Regions from separate parts of the Homo sapiens genome. Here region 2 is reported to be linked to region 1. The links are microRNA targets in miRTarBase. Many come from high-throughput screens and were not tested one by one. Region 1 holds a microRNA gene; the other region holds the end of a gene's coding sequence.

Region 1 (4,252 bases):
GAGCATTTTTGAGACTCTTGATACAACCCACACATAGATCCCATGGATGTGAGGGGATGCCCGCTTTCCCTCAACCTCACCTGCATTTGGAATTGCACAATTGCTAGATGAAAGATAATTCAGTACAGATTGAACTCCCATTCATTCTGGGATGGATCAGCAGGAAATTCTAAGAGGAGAAGCTGGTTAGGATCAGAAAACCAGCGAGGGCCAGGTGCCCAGTAGAGGGCGCTGCAGCGCATGCCGGTCCTTGGCCTGCAGGAGCAGCCAGGGGGCATGTGCCTGAGTTGGGCGAAGTACTGGCACAGGCTGTCCTGGAGAGTAGGGCAAGGAGAGCGTGAGGGAGGCAGGAAGGTCCAGAAAGCAGCAGGTCTCCTTTTCAATTCTAGCCTTTCAGCAGGCATCCAGGATGACGAGTTCTGCTAACAGCCTGGCTCCCTAGCGGGTGTAAGGGCTGAAGAGGCGAGACGCTTCCAGAGTCCAGAGGTGCCTCTCATGAACCTGAGGCCACCTAAAAAACCTGGAAGCCTGGAGAAAAGGAAGGGGCTGAGGCCCCAGAGACCATGCTAGGACTGGCCCTGCAGGGCCACTAAGTGGACTCTACCTGCTGTTGAGAAGGCCCCCTAAAGGGTTCTTTTTCTCCTAATCTCGAACAGGGCATTGAAAGCATCGACCAGACTGCCAGCCTGTGCCAGTCTGACCTGGAGGCCGTGCGGGCGGCAGCCCGGGAAACCACACTGTCGTTCGGTAAAAAGTGGCACAAACTGTGCAGCGCAGCGGGGTGCCTGGGGCCCTTAGAATCTGCGAGAGGCCACACCCAGCTCTCCCAGCAGGCAGAACAACTCTGGGGCACCTGGGATGGGCACCGTTAGCAGCCCTGGCACAGAGCCGACCTCCACCCTTTGTAGCATCCTGCCAAGGCAGGCCTCCTCCATGGCTGGGGTGGCAGGGAGTGTTCGCTGTCTTCTTAGACCTTTGGGATAGAAGCCAGAGGCAAGGCAGGGTTCCCATTCAGCGGAACATCCTAGAGGTAAAGACAAGGCCCCCAGGCCATGTGAGTCACCAGGTGGGGGCTCCCGCACATACTCCCTCCCCTGCCGCTTTGCAGAGACCACTGAGACCCACAGTCACTAAGCACTAGGGCCACCCTGGCCCAGGAGAGTTGGAAGTGCCAAGGCAGGATCCAACCCGCTGACAGGTCCCTTTGCTATTTCAGGTGAAAAAGGACGGTTAGCTTTTGAGAAGATGGACAAGCTCTGCTCAGAACAAAGAGAAGTCTTTTGCCAGGAGGCAGATGTTGAAATCACAATATTTTAAAAAATCCTGGCTGATGAGCACAAATCTCACATCGTTTTTTTTGCTGCTGCCCAGCCTGGACATAGCCTGCACTCTGGGTAATGGTGCTGTGCACTCCTCCAGGAGTGTGAGCTGCCCAGAGCTCTACCTGAGACTCCGGCCATTGACCCAGCCCCAGGGCATGGGCTGGTCTTTTGTACAGAGGCAGAAAAAAGCAAGGCAAAGGTACAGCATTCCAGGGGCTGCACGGCCTCAACAGAGCGCTCAACTTCTGGCTGAGGGTCTGTGTGACCTTCCCCGAGATGCAGAGCTGAGCCAAACTAGGTGGCCACCTACAAAAGGGCCAAGGCCAGGCAAGTTGAGGCCCTAAATAAAAGGCTCCAAGGCAAGTGTGTAGAACTCCAGGCCTCGCTGCCGGTCAGCTGCTCGGCACTTCTGCGTCAAGAGGCACTGGGGATGCAGCAGGCTGGCAGGTGGCTGGCCCTGCTAATGCAAGACTGCTCAGGCCATTTCAGCAGCAGCCAGGTGTCACCTTGGTGAGCTGGGGAAGGTGGGAAGGCACAAAGCCAGGGTTTCTACAACCACACTCTCAGCCCGACTGACTTGCTGCGAGTGCTGGTGGAGCTCACAGACGGCGGCTGGTGGATGGTGGACTGTGAACCTCACTTTCCCTATGTTCAGCAGCACAAAGGGAAGAAGCCACCACATCAGCCCAGGAGCCCTGAGCAGCACAGGCAGTAGGGCCACTCACTTTGGCCATCCGCACCCAAATGCAATCAATCAACCCAGCTTCGGAAGCTACCCTAGGATCTCGTCAATAAACTGCTAAGAAGCCATCAACTGGCCTAAAGAAAGAGTTCACTGAAGAACGCAATTGCTTTAAAGAAAGAAAAATTAGTTTCCTATTTAAGTCTTAAAAAAAAGCAAACCATGTCCTGAGATGTCTGTGTTAATAGTGCAGAGAGAACCTAGGGTTTGAGGTTGCTGTAGCAATGGCATTGGAGAACTTTAACTTGAACATTCTCATCGATACTTCCTGGACATATTTTGTGTTTTTAACTTACTTAGTATTTATTTGCCTTGTTCATATGTTCAATTTTCTGAAATTTCAATTAAACTATTGGTGTTTCACTTTTTACCCAAAAGAGTAGACAGCAGTTGTTTCCCCAAATACCTGCCAGTGAGGAGGTCACTCCTGTGGTCTTGTGGTGCGCTGTGGGGACACTTGGAGGGTGGCCTCAGGCAGCAGCTCCGGTAAATGCAGTCTCCAGGCTTCTCTGCATGCTCTCGAAGGCTCCAGGCGTGCTCTCCCCTATATGGGCACTCTGTGGCACGGCCTTTGCCCTTTTGTCCCATCTGATTTCTGGCAAACCCTCTCTTTTTAAGCATCAGCAGTACCAGCCTAGAGCAGGGGTCCTCAACCCCCAGGCCACAGACCGGTACTGGTCTGAGGCCTGTTAGGAACTGGACTGCATGGCAGGAGGTGAGTGGCGAGCGACTGAGCATGACCACCTGAGCTCCATCTCCTGTTAGATCAGCTGCAGCATCAGGTTCTCTTAGGAGCGTGAACCCTATTGTGAACTGAATGTGTGCAAGAGATCAGGTTGCAAGCTCCTTATGAGAATCTGATGCCTGATGATCTGAGGTGGAAGTTTCTATCCCAAAACCATCCCTCACCACCCCCAGGCCTGTGAAAAAATTGTCTTCCATGGAACCGGTTCCTGGTGCCAGAAAAGGTTGGGGACCGCTGCCCTAGAGCATCCTCCCTCTTCTTGAAAGCTTAGATGCCCTTTTTTATACCTGAAATGGTGGAAGCCACACTGACTTCTGCAGCCCCAGGCCCCTGTGGGTCCACATGACCACAGCCTGTCCTCTTCCCAGTCTCATGAGCCTGGGCCTGCAGCCAGCTTTGAAACAGTCGAGGAAACTTCGAGGGTACTGGGGAACTCTTCGTACTATTTTGGCAACATTTTGCAAGTCCAAAATTACTTCAAAAAGTCAAAAAAATCACTTTGGGGGGAATTTACATTGTTTAATTTTGTACACAAATGAAAAACTATACTAATCTGTCTTATTTCTAAGTCAATTCTATATCAAGTGGACTTTACGTACTGAGATGTGGTAACCATTGTGTCTTACAGGTAATTGGGTAAGGGATATGGTTTTGAGATTACAACTCAAAACACTGTTCTTCAAACAACACTGGTAAGTTTGTTAAGTTATCTGAGGGCCCTACACAGGCAAAGCGTCAATTTGGGAAGGAAATGGGCTGAGGCCTAAGGTGTTCAACAAGCTCACAGTCAAGGAAAGCGCTCCAGCCTGAGGGTGCTGGCAATGCAGGGATGCTGAGGTTAATTCTTAGAAGTGGAAAACTCTAACCCCAGCTGATTGACAACATCTGTTTCACATCAGCAGGGATAGAAAGAAACAGGAGTTACTCATCCTGGTTTAGCTCTATTAAGCAAAGAAAAAAATGGGAAGCACCCCAAATTCATGTTCTTTAGAAAAAAATTTTATTGTTGCAGCTAAAATGCAAACCCATCATGAATATGGCAAGTTGGAAAACTGTACAGTCTGACAGTTCTGTGAGGTCACAGAAGACCCTGAGACACTCCCCCCCACCCACCCGGTCATGCAGCCACGTATCCACACACACCTGAAAAGGTATTATACCAAAACACCTTGCTTTTTTTGTTTTTATTTTTGTAAAAATGGTTTATTCCATGGCCATTGTAAAAAATAATGACCTGATGAGTAAATATTGGCTTAAGGCATATAGCAGAGCAGCTCGCTACCTCTCTAACATAATGTGTAACAAGGTGGAGAGCCAGCTGCTCTCCAAGGATAGGAGGTTAAACCAGTACGTCCATTTTGAAATGCTACTATATATACACACCCAAACTACTACATACATATACAGGACTTAAAAACAACAAGCCCAGCTCAGAATGCTTAC
Region 2 (4,000 bases), not on the chromosome of region 1:
GTGACATTTTTTAAAAACAAATCATTTAATTTTGCTAATGGTCAGAGTCTTTTCTTGGCATCTAAATCCTGCCCCTACCTCACCCCCCTACCAAAGTCCCAATGTTTAATGGGAAAAACCACATAGAGGCACAAGGGAGGTGGGCCCAAGACCTTTGTTCTGTAGGCCCTCACCTTAAGAAAAAGGTGCTATGTTAATATTAATAAATCATAATATGCAAATCACCAAAGGCTGGGCCCGGTGGATCACACCTGTAATCCCAGTACTTTGGGAGGCCGAAGCAGGCAGATCACTTGAGCTCAGGAATTTGAGACCAGCCTGGCCAGCATGGTGGAAAACCCCGTCTCTACTAAAAATACAAAAATTAGCTGGGCTTGGTGGCACTTGCCTATAGTCCCTGCTACTTGGGAAGCTTAGGCAGGAGAATCGTTTGAACCTGGGCAGCAGAGATTGCAGTGAGCGGAGATCACACCACACCACTGCACTCCAGCCTAGGTAACAGAGTGAGACTCCATCTCAAAAAAAAAAAAAAAGAAAAAGGATAGACACCCTAGCCAACATGCTAAATATATTTTCTTATTTTAGAGGATCCATCCTGCGTAGATTTCTTCAACTGGTGTCACCTAGTTCCTCAGCATGGTGTCTGCAACCACAAGTTTTACGGAAAACAATGCTGCAAGTCATGCACAAGGAAGATCTGATCTTGGTGTCCTCCCCAGCACCTTAGGGCCAGGGGCTTACCTTTCAACCTCTAGAGAGACCAGCTGCCTTTGAGACCAGGAGCTGAGCACCGAGAACCATCTGTGAGCTGCCGCTGTGATGAAGGAGCCTGCTCTGAGGAACAGACAGGTTGCCAGTAGGCTTCTAGCTCAATTCCCTGAAGCACGTGGTACTCTGAAGCACTTGAAAATGGGAAGCGATGACAAATCTGACTTTAAAAAAAATCTTTGATTTGCACTGTTATATGCAAGAAGTGGTGAATCACACTGAGATACGTCGATTTGGGGAGAGACCCCCTTTTGAACTTCAAAGGGTTCAAGGGCAAAGACATCTGTTTTAAAAAGGTCCTTTATGACTTCAGGTCAAAGACTGAGACTCAGAACTTTCAAATCTGGATGGAATACCTTGCCTAACTGTTGCGTGGAGTTCACAGTTCGACTAACCCTGTGAACACCCAAGCCAGGAGTTCTATGAGAAGCCAAATGGTGCTCGCAATTGTGCTTGCTGCTGGACTGGCAAGCTTCATGTTATGTTTATTTGGTGTGCGTGTGTCTTTATTATTTTGTGTAAACTATATTCTGCTTATAGAGAGTCTCTGAGACTAAAATTGACAACTTGAAAAGTATTCCAAGGAATATTATGAAAATAGGGCAACATGGACTGTTTAAGATCTCCATGTAATTGAAATTCATGCAAGGAAACAACTCATAGAAAAGATAAATATGGATGCCCTTCACATGTTATCAACCTCGTAACTTTTGGTGCTTGCTGAATCAGTCCATGAAAAGCTACAGCCCGCTCTTTGGGAATGCTACATACCCATTTCTGGTATTTAAAAAATATCTAGGAGGAGCTAAATGACAAAACACAGCAGTGTTTTGAGGGAGAAAGGACCATCATTTATAATGCTCTGTACATACTACCAGAGCTGCTTGGAAAATTAAAGGCCACTTGTGGCTTTTTCCTACCAACTGATACGTTTAAATTTGCCCTAGGATTGAGCTAACAGCAAAAAAAAAAAAAAAAAAAAGAGAGAAAGAAAGGAGTAAACAGTGGTAATAAAAAAATCCATCTGTCTTCTTGCTATGTTAATATTAATAAATCATAATATGACAAGACCCTCACTGAATAAGAGTATTTTCAGTCATCAGAAGCCAGCTGTTGGTAGGCATTAATGAGTTTAAAATTGTTCTCAATTGAAAAAACATCACACTATTTTGCCAAAACCAAAGTAATTATAATACTGTGTCCTCCTGTAATTTTTTGAGAAGTGGTTATAAAGGGCATATTTACATAAATTCTACTTTATTCCTCAACTTCTTTGATGAATGTAACCCAATTTTACTTCTTTAAAAAGTCTCAATTCAAGCTGGATTAGCCAGCTCAGCATAATCAACTAGACAGTGGTTTGTTAAATTTAGCAGCATACTTCGTTCCCATTCTAATTAAAGTCATGAGTTCTTGAATCCCAGAGAAATAATGCTTAGGAACTTCTCTCAATCTGCTTGGCTTGGCCTAGAGAAGTGGCCATTTTATCAACAGGAAAAAAAAAAATTTTCTCTACTACAACCCCGTTGCCTTCTGAAAAACAGCAAGTTATTTCTTTATATAATTATCATTTTATTATTTTATGGAAAATTAATTTATTAATTAATAGCCTATTATGTGTTCTCACTTGCTTCTCTAAGTAATATTTTGAGATAAAATGTTGAATAAAACCATGGATTATAGAGAAAAGTCAAAATATATGTGTAATATTTAATTATTTTATAAGTTTTATAATAAAGTATTCCATTTCTTTATCTTTGACAGCTTGTTAAGTTCTTGAATAAGTTAGTGAAAAGTCCATAATTTCAAAGGTAATTTAACTGTATAAATGTCACTCAGGACTCTTAGAGAATGGTTGGGTGCAGCGGTTCACCTCGGTAATCCCAGCACTTCGGGAGGCCAAGGCAGACGGATCACCTGAGTCCAGGAGTTCGAAACCAGCCTGGCCAACATGGCAAAACCCTGTCTCTATTGAAAATACAAAAAAAGTAGCCAGCTGTGGTGGCACACAGCTGTAGTCCTAGCTACTTGGGAGGCTGAGGCTGCAGTGAGAGGAGATTGGGCCACACCACTCCCCGCTGGGTGACAGACAGAGACTCTGTCTCAACAACAACAAATCTACAGAGTAACTTCATTGAGAAGAGGAAAGATAGATAAGCTATTCAACAACTAGTGATTTTTCTTGTTTGCCTTTGAAGAAATCAAAGTATGAAATGCTAGGATGAAACAGATGACACATTTACCCTCTTGAGGACACACTATTTTGTTCCCCTGTAATTGTCATGAGAACATTTGTGGAAATCATCTAAGATAAAACTACCATAAATGTATTTTTACATTTAAAAGTCATTCTAGTAAAATATTTTTGTAAAAATAAAGAGGGGGAAGGGAAGGATGGGCAGGAAAACATGAAAAAAATAAAAAGTAATTGTTCTTGGCTTTTTGAAATTTTGAATCATTAAACCAGTGGAGAATAAGAACTGGGCAAAGTTATGTCCAATTGATCTGAAAATACTGTATTTTTCCCTGCATCTGTGATTACATGTGTGTCTACATAAGTTCATATGCGTATCTTTATAGTTAAGAGAATTTTTATATAATTTATTGCTATTTAGCAAACAAAAAATTATGATTAAGAATGGAAAATGGAATAGATGCAGATAAAATACGTGACAGAAAAAAAGATATTTTGTTCTTTTTTTGAGACAGAGTTTCACTCTTGTTGCCCAGGCTGGAGTGCAATGATAGGATCTCAACACCCTGCAACCTCCGCCTCCCAGGTTCAAGCGATTTTCCTGCCTCAGCCTCCCAAGTAGCTGGGATTACAGGTGCCCACCACCACGCCCAGAAAAAAAAATTGTCTTTATACCTTTTGGTAATAAGCAACCACATATTAGTGTTTAATGGGAATCAGGTATTGTACTGAACTATTTATATATGTTATCTCATTTAATCCTAACAATAGCCCACTTAGGAAGATACTATTGTTCTTTGTTGGCAGGTGACAACTCGGATTCAGAGACATTACGTATTTAGCCCTAGTACACAGTCACTGAGTGATGGGGTCAGGACTCAAACCCAAATCCATTGGGGTTCTCGTGACTGTGTTGCGTTACCCTGGGATAGAGAAAGAAAAAGAAGGGCATGCAGGCCTTAGAACTCTACTTTTTGCCCCCTGAGATGCATGTGAATGGAGTTTGACAATAAGTGATTTAACAATGATAAATTACGG

The links. The annotated mature microRNA hsa-miR-645 reads UCUAGGCUGGUACUGCUGA and lies in region 1 at 2,685-2,703, opposite strand. An mRNA with a match to its seed (bases 2 to 7 or 8) in the 3' UTR can be bound and repressed. Matches are read on the target gene's strand: a 7mer-m8 pairs with bases 2 to 8, a 7mer-A1 pairs with bases 2 to 7 and ends in A, and an 8mer does both.
Region 2: miRTarBase lists ADAMTS18 as a target of hsa-miR-645. Seed matches in the 3' UTR shown: 7mer-A1 at 2,234-2,240.

Annotation. Positions count from the first base shown.
Region 1 is chr20:50,584,297-50,588,548 of GRCh38, reverse strand. MIR645 (microRNA 645) reads right to left here and starts at 2,763; the gene lies at 2,670-2,763. PTPN1 (protein tyrosine phosphatase non-receptor type 1) reads right to left here. Exons shown (of 10, transcript NM_002827.4): 10 at 3,308-4,252. RIPOR3 (RIPOR family member 3) reads left to right here. Exons shown (of 22, transcript NM_001290268.2): 21 at 657-747; 22 at 1,217-2,441. The coding sequence ends at 1,317. RefSeq lists enhancers at 326-385, 1,202-1,714, 1,715-2,228 and a silencer at 123-417.
Region 2 is chr16:77,280,657-77,284,656 of GRCh38, reverse strand. ADAMTS18 (ADAM metallopeptidase with thrombospondin type 1 motif 18) reads left to right here. Exons shown (of 23, transcript NM_199355.4): 23 at 586-2,529. The coding sequence ends at 701. Among named protein-coding and RNA genes, the nearest start is that of SYCE1L, 83 kb to the right of the region's middle.